Linked DNA regions of Homo sapiens: region 1 is reported to be linked to region 2. Evidence: microRNA targets listed by miRTarBase, many of them from high-throughput screens and not tested one by one. Region 2 holds a microRNA gene; the other region holds the end of a gene's coding sequence.
Evidence for each region. Region 2 holds the annotated microRNA hsa-miR-7110-3p (UCUCUCUCCCACUUCCCUGCAG, at 1,350-1,371, shown strand). A microRNA usually pairs through its seed, bases 2 to 8, with sites in the 3' UTR of a target mRNA and lowers its output. Matches are read on the target gene's strand: a 7mer-m8 pairs with bases 2 to 8, a 7mer-A1 pairs with bases 2 to 7 and ends in A, and an 8mer does both.

Region 1 (3,114 bases), not on the chromosome of region 2:
AGGCAGTGCTACCTTCAAGAACAGCAGTCTAGCAGGAAGACAGACACTTATCGGCTCCATTTCTGCCAGATTCTGCCACTGGAAAGGGTTTACACATAGATTCCTGGTCTCAGGTATGAGAGTTCCCAGACGGAGCTGTTAAGCTTGGCTCCCGCCAACAGGTGGAGGTCTCACCTGTGTGTCTTTGCCCAGGTGACAGCAAAGCCATTTGAGTGTGCCCTCTCTGGCCTTCCCTTCCTGCTCTGCTGCCACCGTGGAACCACCTCCTCTTCCTTCACTTAGGATCATGTATGGTGGCCCTTCCCACTTTCAGATACCCACCCCCATCTCTCTTCAACAAGAGAGAAAGAAAAGCCTGGGGGACAGCCCACTGCAGTGAATAGAAATTCCTTCCCACTGACATGTTAAATACCTCTCATGGCAAAGGCTGGCCCTGAACACCCGCATCCGTGATTTAAGACTCTGTGGGTTGAGGGAGAAGAAGAGAATCCCAGGGATATCAGAGGATATGAGATCCCTTCCCCTCCCCTGCCCGGTCATCTTTCAAGCCCCCCAACCCTGAGCTGAGAACTAGAGACACGGGCTCTCCAATCAAGGGAGGCGGGTGACTTAGAGGTGAGTACAAGCCACCGCCTGGAGAGCAGAGAAGTCTGAGTGAAGGCAGCTGTGTCAGCCCCAGGGAACCGAGGCAATCCTCCCACCAGAGATCAAGACCCCGGTCCCAGGCCTTTTACTGGCTGTGGATAGGAGGAGAGAGAGAAGGAGAAAGCAATGTGTGAATGAGCACACATTTGGTTTTTGATACTGATTATAGCTGTAAGGAATTGACCACACAAGGGAACAGAGAAACTGGTTTGGCTATGTCAACATAATTCTAATCAAAGTCATTTATGCCAGCCACCTTACCTTTTGTGTGTAATAGTCACGTTACCCCATAACAATGATGTACCTTCATAAAGGTGGTTCAGAGTGTTTCTAAGTTTTGATTAGGGCAGTAATTGATTGATCTATCTAGGTGCCAGCCTTTGCAATTTCTTTCTTTTTTTTCTTTTCTTTTTTTTTTTTTTGAGATGGAGTCTCCCTCTGTTGCCCAGGCTGGAGTGCAGTGGCGCGATCTTGGCTTACTGCAACCTCCGCCTCCCAGGTTCGAGCAATTCTTTTGCCTCAGCCTCTTGAGTAGCTAGAACTACAGGCATGTGCCACCACACCCAGCTAATTTTTAGCTAATATTTAGAAGAGACGGGGTTTCACCATGTTGGCCAGGCTGGTCTTGAACTCCTGGCCTCGTGATCCACCCGTCTCAGCCTCCCAAAGTGAGCCACCACGCCCTGCCCAACCCAGCCTTTGCAATTTCTACCTTAAGTTATGTAGTCCTCTGTTCTCCACTTTAACAGATGAGCAACACCATTGCTTTTAAACTATTCGATAGAATGAGGTTTGAGTTGTGTGTGTGAGAGCAGGTTGTGTGCGAGTATGTGTGTGTCTATTTATTCAGTATTTCCCCTGATAACTTTCTGTTCTCTGAGCAGTTGCTATATAGCTTTCTTATTCCTGTGCTTGGAATTTGATTTTTCTTTTTTGAAGGCTGTAAATTCTACCTTTTTTCCCTTACATACACATATATATGTAGATATCCCCCCAATAAGCCTAACTAGACCTTACGATTCATAAATTATGTTGCCACAACAGCTCAGTTTAGACAAATTTATAACAAATTTGTGAAATTAACAGAACTTTGAGACCCCTGTCTTTCACAGGACCTGCAGTCGCCTGGGAACCACCCTACCAGAAGTGAAAGTGACACTCTCTTGCTTCTGTTCCAAGTTCTGTTGCCATTGCTTGGAGCAGTCTGATTCTCTACCTGAAAGATGGTGTTTCAATCAATCTTGGTGAATGAGAGGAGAATATTTAGTGCATAACTGGAGTTGAGTGAAAGACAATATAGTAAATAAATGAATGATGTTTTATCATTTCAGAAAAATATAGTGATAACTTTAAAATCATTAGGCAGTATTAGGATATCTTATGGAACTGTATTTTATATCCAACTGTGAATAACAGGTAAGTAGAAAACAAATTGCAAAGATTCATTTATGGTCATTTTTAAATTTGATTACCCATTTAAATCCAGCAGCCAAGTGGTTTCAACAGACTTTCTACTTGAGGTGAAAATAATAACACTACAAACATATGGCAGAGCTTCGTACAAGCATTTCACTCACAGAGGAGTTTATGTTTTCGAGGATGTAGGAAAAGATTTTCCAAGTGTGAAAACTAAATATATACAAAAGCAATACATTTTGTTATTAGTTAAATAAAATGTGTCTTTAAATATGGAATTCTTTGAAAAACTCACTTCATCGTCCAAAATTATGGAGACTATTTCACTTTTTTAATCAAAGATGGAATATTCATCACAGTTCCCCAAGGGATTTTCTAACTGGCCTGGGCAAGGAGTTCACTTGTAGAGTGTAGTTAGTGAAAACATCCAGTGGCCAAGCCTCATCAATAACTGTATCCAAAAGGAGACGCTGCTTGGGGTGTACCCAGAGAAAACACCAAGCTTTCCTGGCTTCCCGGCCCTCCCTCTCCCCATTAGTCTTTGGGGTGCATACATAAGTGTTGTGTGAAGTCTCTTGGGGTTTAGAAGATCTTGCACTCATTGATGGAGAAGAGCCTCCTTCTGTTTCGTCTCCTGGCCTGGTTGACGGCAGTTCGGACGGCGCACTCAAACACCTGCTGTACTCCCCGATTGCTAAGGGCTGAGCACTCCAGGTAGCCCTTGGCTCTGACATCCTGGGCCAGTTTCTTCCCTTCCATGGCATTGACGCAGGAGGCCCTGTGGGGCCCCATCTCCCGCTGGTCAGTCTGGGTGGCCACCACCAGCACAGGGGTACAGGGCAAGTTGCTCCTAATTTCACCAATCCACTTGTTCTTCAAGTTCAGGAATGAGTTATGGTTGGCCACAGAGTAGCACATCAGCACCACGTCTGCCTGCTGGTAGGACAGGGGCCGGATGCTTCTGAAGGCGTCATTGCCGGCTGTGTCCCAGAGGCCCAGGCTGATCTGGATGCCATCCATGAAGACGTCCACCCCTGTGTTCTCGTACACTGT
Region 2 (3,114 bases):
GATGGCGAATCATACAGAGCGCCTTTGCCCCACTCACCTGGCACCTGGACCACCTCCCTCATCCCTCACATCACATCATGTTGGAATTGTCCCTTTATCCAACCCCTGCCCAGACACTGAGCCCCTAAGTGGGGACAGAGCTTGTATATGGGGTTGGAAGAAGTGACTGTAATAGCAGCTGACATTTCCTGACCATGAATCTGGTGCCAGGTTCTGTGCTCACTGGCCTCACTGGAATTCTCTTATTCAGTCTTCACAATATCCTGATAGCCTAGATACTATTATTATCCCCATTTTACAGCTGAAAAAAATGAGGCACCAAGAGGCTGAGTTATTTTCCTTAAGTCTTACTGTCCAGGCAAACCAAGAGTGCACTTGGGGAACTTGACTTGAAAGCTCTTGCCCTTAACCTTGGCACTATACTGTCCCCCCAAGCTAATGTTCCGGAAATATTAGTGGAGAAATGATTAAATCCTACAGTCCCTTACAGATAGCACCACAGAACCTGTGGTGTTTACAAATGCTTTCAAGTCATCATTTCCTTTACGATCATCATACTCTTGATTTTAAAGGACAGTCTAAAGGCACTCCAGGCCGAGTCCCCTAACCTTACCCATCTGGAAATTGAAAACAAGCACCATCAGTCTCCAAGGAGTCCTGAGCTGGGGGTGCTTTGGTTCAGTTCCTACCTGCCACTGAGGAGAAAAATCAGAGTGGGCCTGTGACGTGGACTAGATGTGCAATCTGTGTTGTGGGGTCCAGGCCTCAGCCTGGGGACACCCTGTGCCAACTCTCTTTACCTTGGCTCCTAGATTGCCTGTGCCGCTGTTGACTGTGTCAAAGACAAGAACCAAGACCTGTGCCAGCAGGAGGCGGTCAAGGGCTACCCCACTTTCCACTACTACCACTATGGGAAGTTCGCAGAAAAGTATGACAGCGACCGCACAGTAAGTGGGGGAGAGGCGTCTGCCCAGAGCTCTCTCTCTGCTGATGGGCAGGGAAACTTCCACTGAGGAGGGGCAGCACTGGGCAGCATCCCAGAAACTGCAGAAGTCAGCTGGAACACTGCACCGAGAGGCCCAGGCCCTGGGCCTGGCTGAGGCTTGACATTGTTGGAGGAGAGTCCCAAGGGGTTGCCACAGATGTCCTGTCCCCAGAGGCAGGCTGGACTCCAGATGCCGAGGGTTTTCTCACTTGCTGGTCGGGGCTGGTGCAAGCCACGCAGACCCTCTCCACCTTGCAGAAGTCTGCCCACCTCTCCCTGTCATAGGAGTGACCCCCTGGAGGGGCTGGGGGTGTGGGGAGAGAGAGTGCACAGCCAGCTCAGGGATTAAAGCTCTTTCTCTCTCTCTCTCTCCCACTTCCCTGCAGGAATTGGGATTTACCAATTATATTCGAGCCCTCCGGGAGGGAGACCATGAAAGACTAGGGAAAAAGAAGGAAGAGTTATAATTCCTGCCTCAGAAAAAGCTTTTCCATTACACTGTGAATGATACCTGTTTTGTTGTTTCTGAATTTCCACATGTTCTGAAGACAAATTTTTTATAGCCGCTTATGGCCATTTTGTACAATTTTGAAATAAAATTAAACCATTTATTTGGTGGTATGGTTTATTTTCGTGGAGCCTGTACTAAAAAAGGTGGATACTCACATCCTCCTCATTCCACCACCTCTGCTGGGAGGTACAGAGCAGTGCTCCAGTGCCCCATCTGCATGGAGGTGACTCCTGAGGGTGTCGGCCCCCTGTCAGTCATTTGAGAGCAGAACAGGGAAACTGGACCGCAGAATATCCTGCTGGAAAATGACAAGCTAATGAGAGGAAATACGTCAAGATGATCAATGACTTTGGGAGGCTGAGGTGGGAGGATCACTTGAAGCCAGGTGTTCAAGACCAGCCTGGGAAACATTATGAGACCTCATGTCTACAGAAAATAAAGTTGCTGGGCATAGGGGTACATGCCTATAGTCCCAGCTACTTGTAAGGCTGGGAAGGGAAGATTTCTTGAGCCCAGGAGTTCAAGGCTGCAATGATCTATGATCGCATGACTACTCCAGCCTAGCTAGAAAGCAAGACCTGTCTCAAAAATAGAAAAAGAAAAAGAAAGAAAAAAACAAAAGATGATCAGGGAAATTGGGATGCTGAAGCAAATGGTAACCAAACACTAGCTTCTTCTGGATCATTGCGGTTTCAGCATTGGTGTGTTTCCTCTGTGTGTGTTTTCCTGGAACTTACTTAGGTATTTATCTTTCTCCAGCTATTTGTCTTCTCTTCGTCTCTCCATTCCCTCCCCAATCTCCCTTTAAAGAAAATTAAGTTGCCGCTTCAGGGGCATGAATGGAGTGGGGGAAGGGGGGCTCTGTGCCAGCTGCTTGCTGTGCACCCTGGCTGGAAGGGATGGTGTGTTCTCGAGGTGCAGATATTAGATCTGCTCACCAGCCCCCACCACCAACCATAATAACCCCAAATCTTTACGCCACGTTTTCCATGGATGGGTGCCTTGCTCGGCCTCCTGCCTGTGTACATCTCCTTTTTGACCCACCTTTCTGGTGAGTCCTCCTGCTTTCTGCATTCCTGCGTGACTGACACCCCAGCCCTGTGCCCAGCGGTGCAGGCAGAGCCTGAGCACAGCAGTAACATGTTTTGTCTGCTTGGTGGTATTTCTCCATGGACAGCAGAGTGGCCTTGTGCTAGTATCTTGTCTTTAGTTATAAGTAGCGGTCCTAGAGTTGGATTCCTCCAGTAGTTCAGGGGGGCGTTGCTTAAGCTGCAGTACTTGGAAGCACGCTCTGGTGGCCTTGATGGGGACTTGGCCTGCAGGAACAGCCCTCCTTTCCTGGACCCAGCTCCCTTCCTCCTGGCCTAAGTCCTTCCTGCTGATGAATCTGCTGAGAGGAGGACAGAGCCTCCAAGTTCTTCACAGCTGTTTTGACGATGGTGCCACTGTGGGTGGTTTCATTAAGGGAAATCAAGGTTTTGAGAGCCCTTGTTCTGTGCAGTTCTCCAACTTTCCAATTGACCCTCCTGCCAGTTCAGCTCTTCTCTTTTCCCCTAAGCACCCACTTCCTTGGCAGTGGCCCCTGGACTTCACCCAAGGATTGGATATGAAAGACAGA

Region 1: miRTarBase lists RHOH as a target of hsa-miR-7110-3p. Seed matches in the 3' UTR shown: 7mer-A1 at 327-333.

What each region holds. Positions count from the first base shown.
Region 1 is chr4:40,243,492-40,246,605 of GRCh38, reverse strand. It overlaps RHOH (ras homolog family member H), which reads right to left. Exons shown (of 3, transcript NM_004310.5): 3 at 1-3,114. The coding sequence ends at 2,644. Among named protein-coding and RNA genes, the nearest start is that of RHOH, 48 kb to the right of the region's middle.
Region 2 is chr3:123,160,509-123,163,622 of GRCh38, forward strand. MIR7110 (microRNA 7110) reads left to right here and starts at 1,286; the gene lies at 1,286-1,371. It overlaps PDIA5 (protein disulfide isomerase family A member 5), which reads left to right. Exons shown (of 17, transcript NM_006810.4): 16 at 813-947; 17 at 1,372-1,596. The coding sequence ends at 1,452.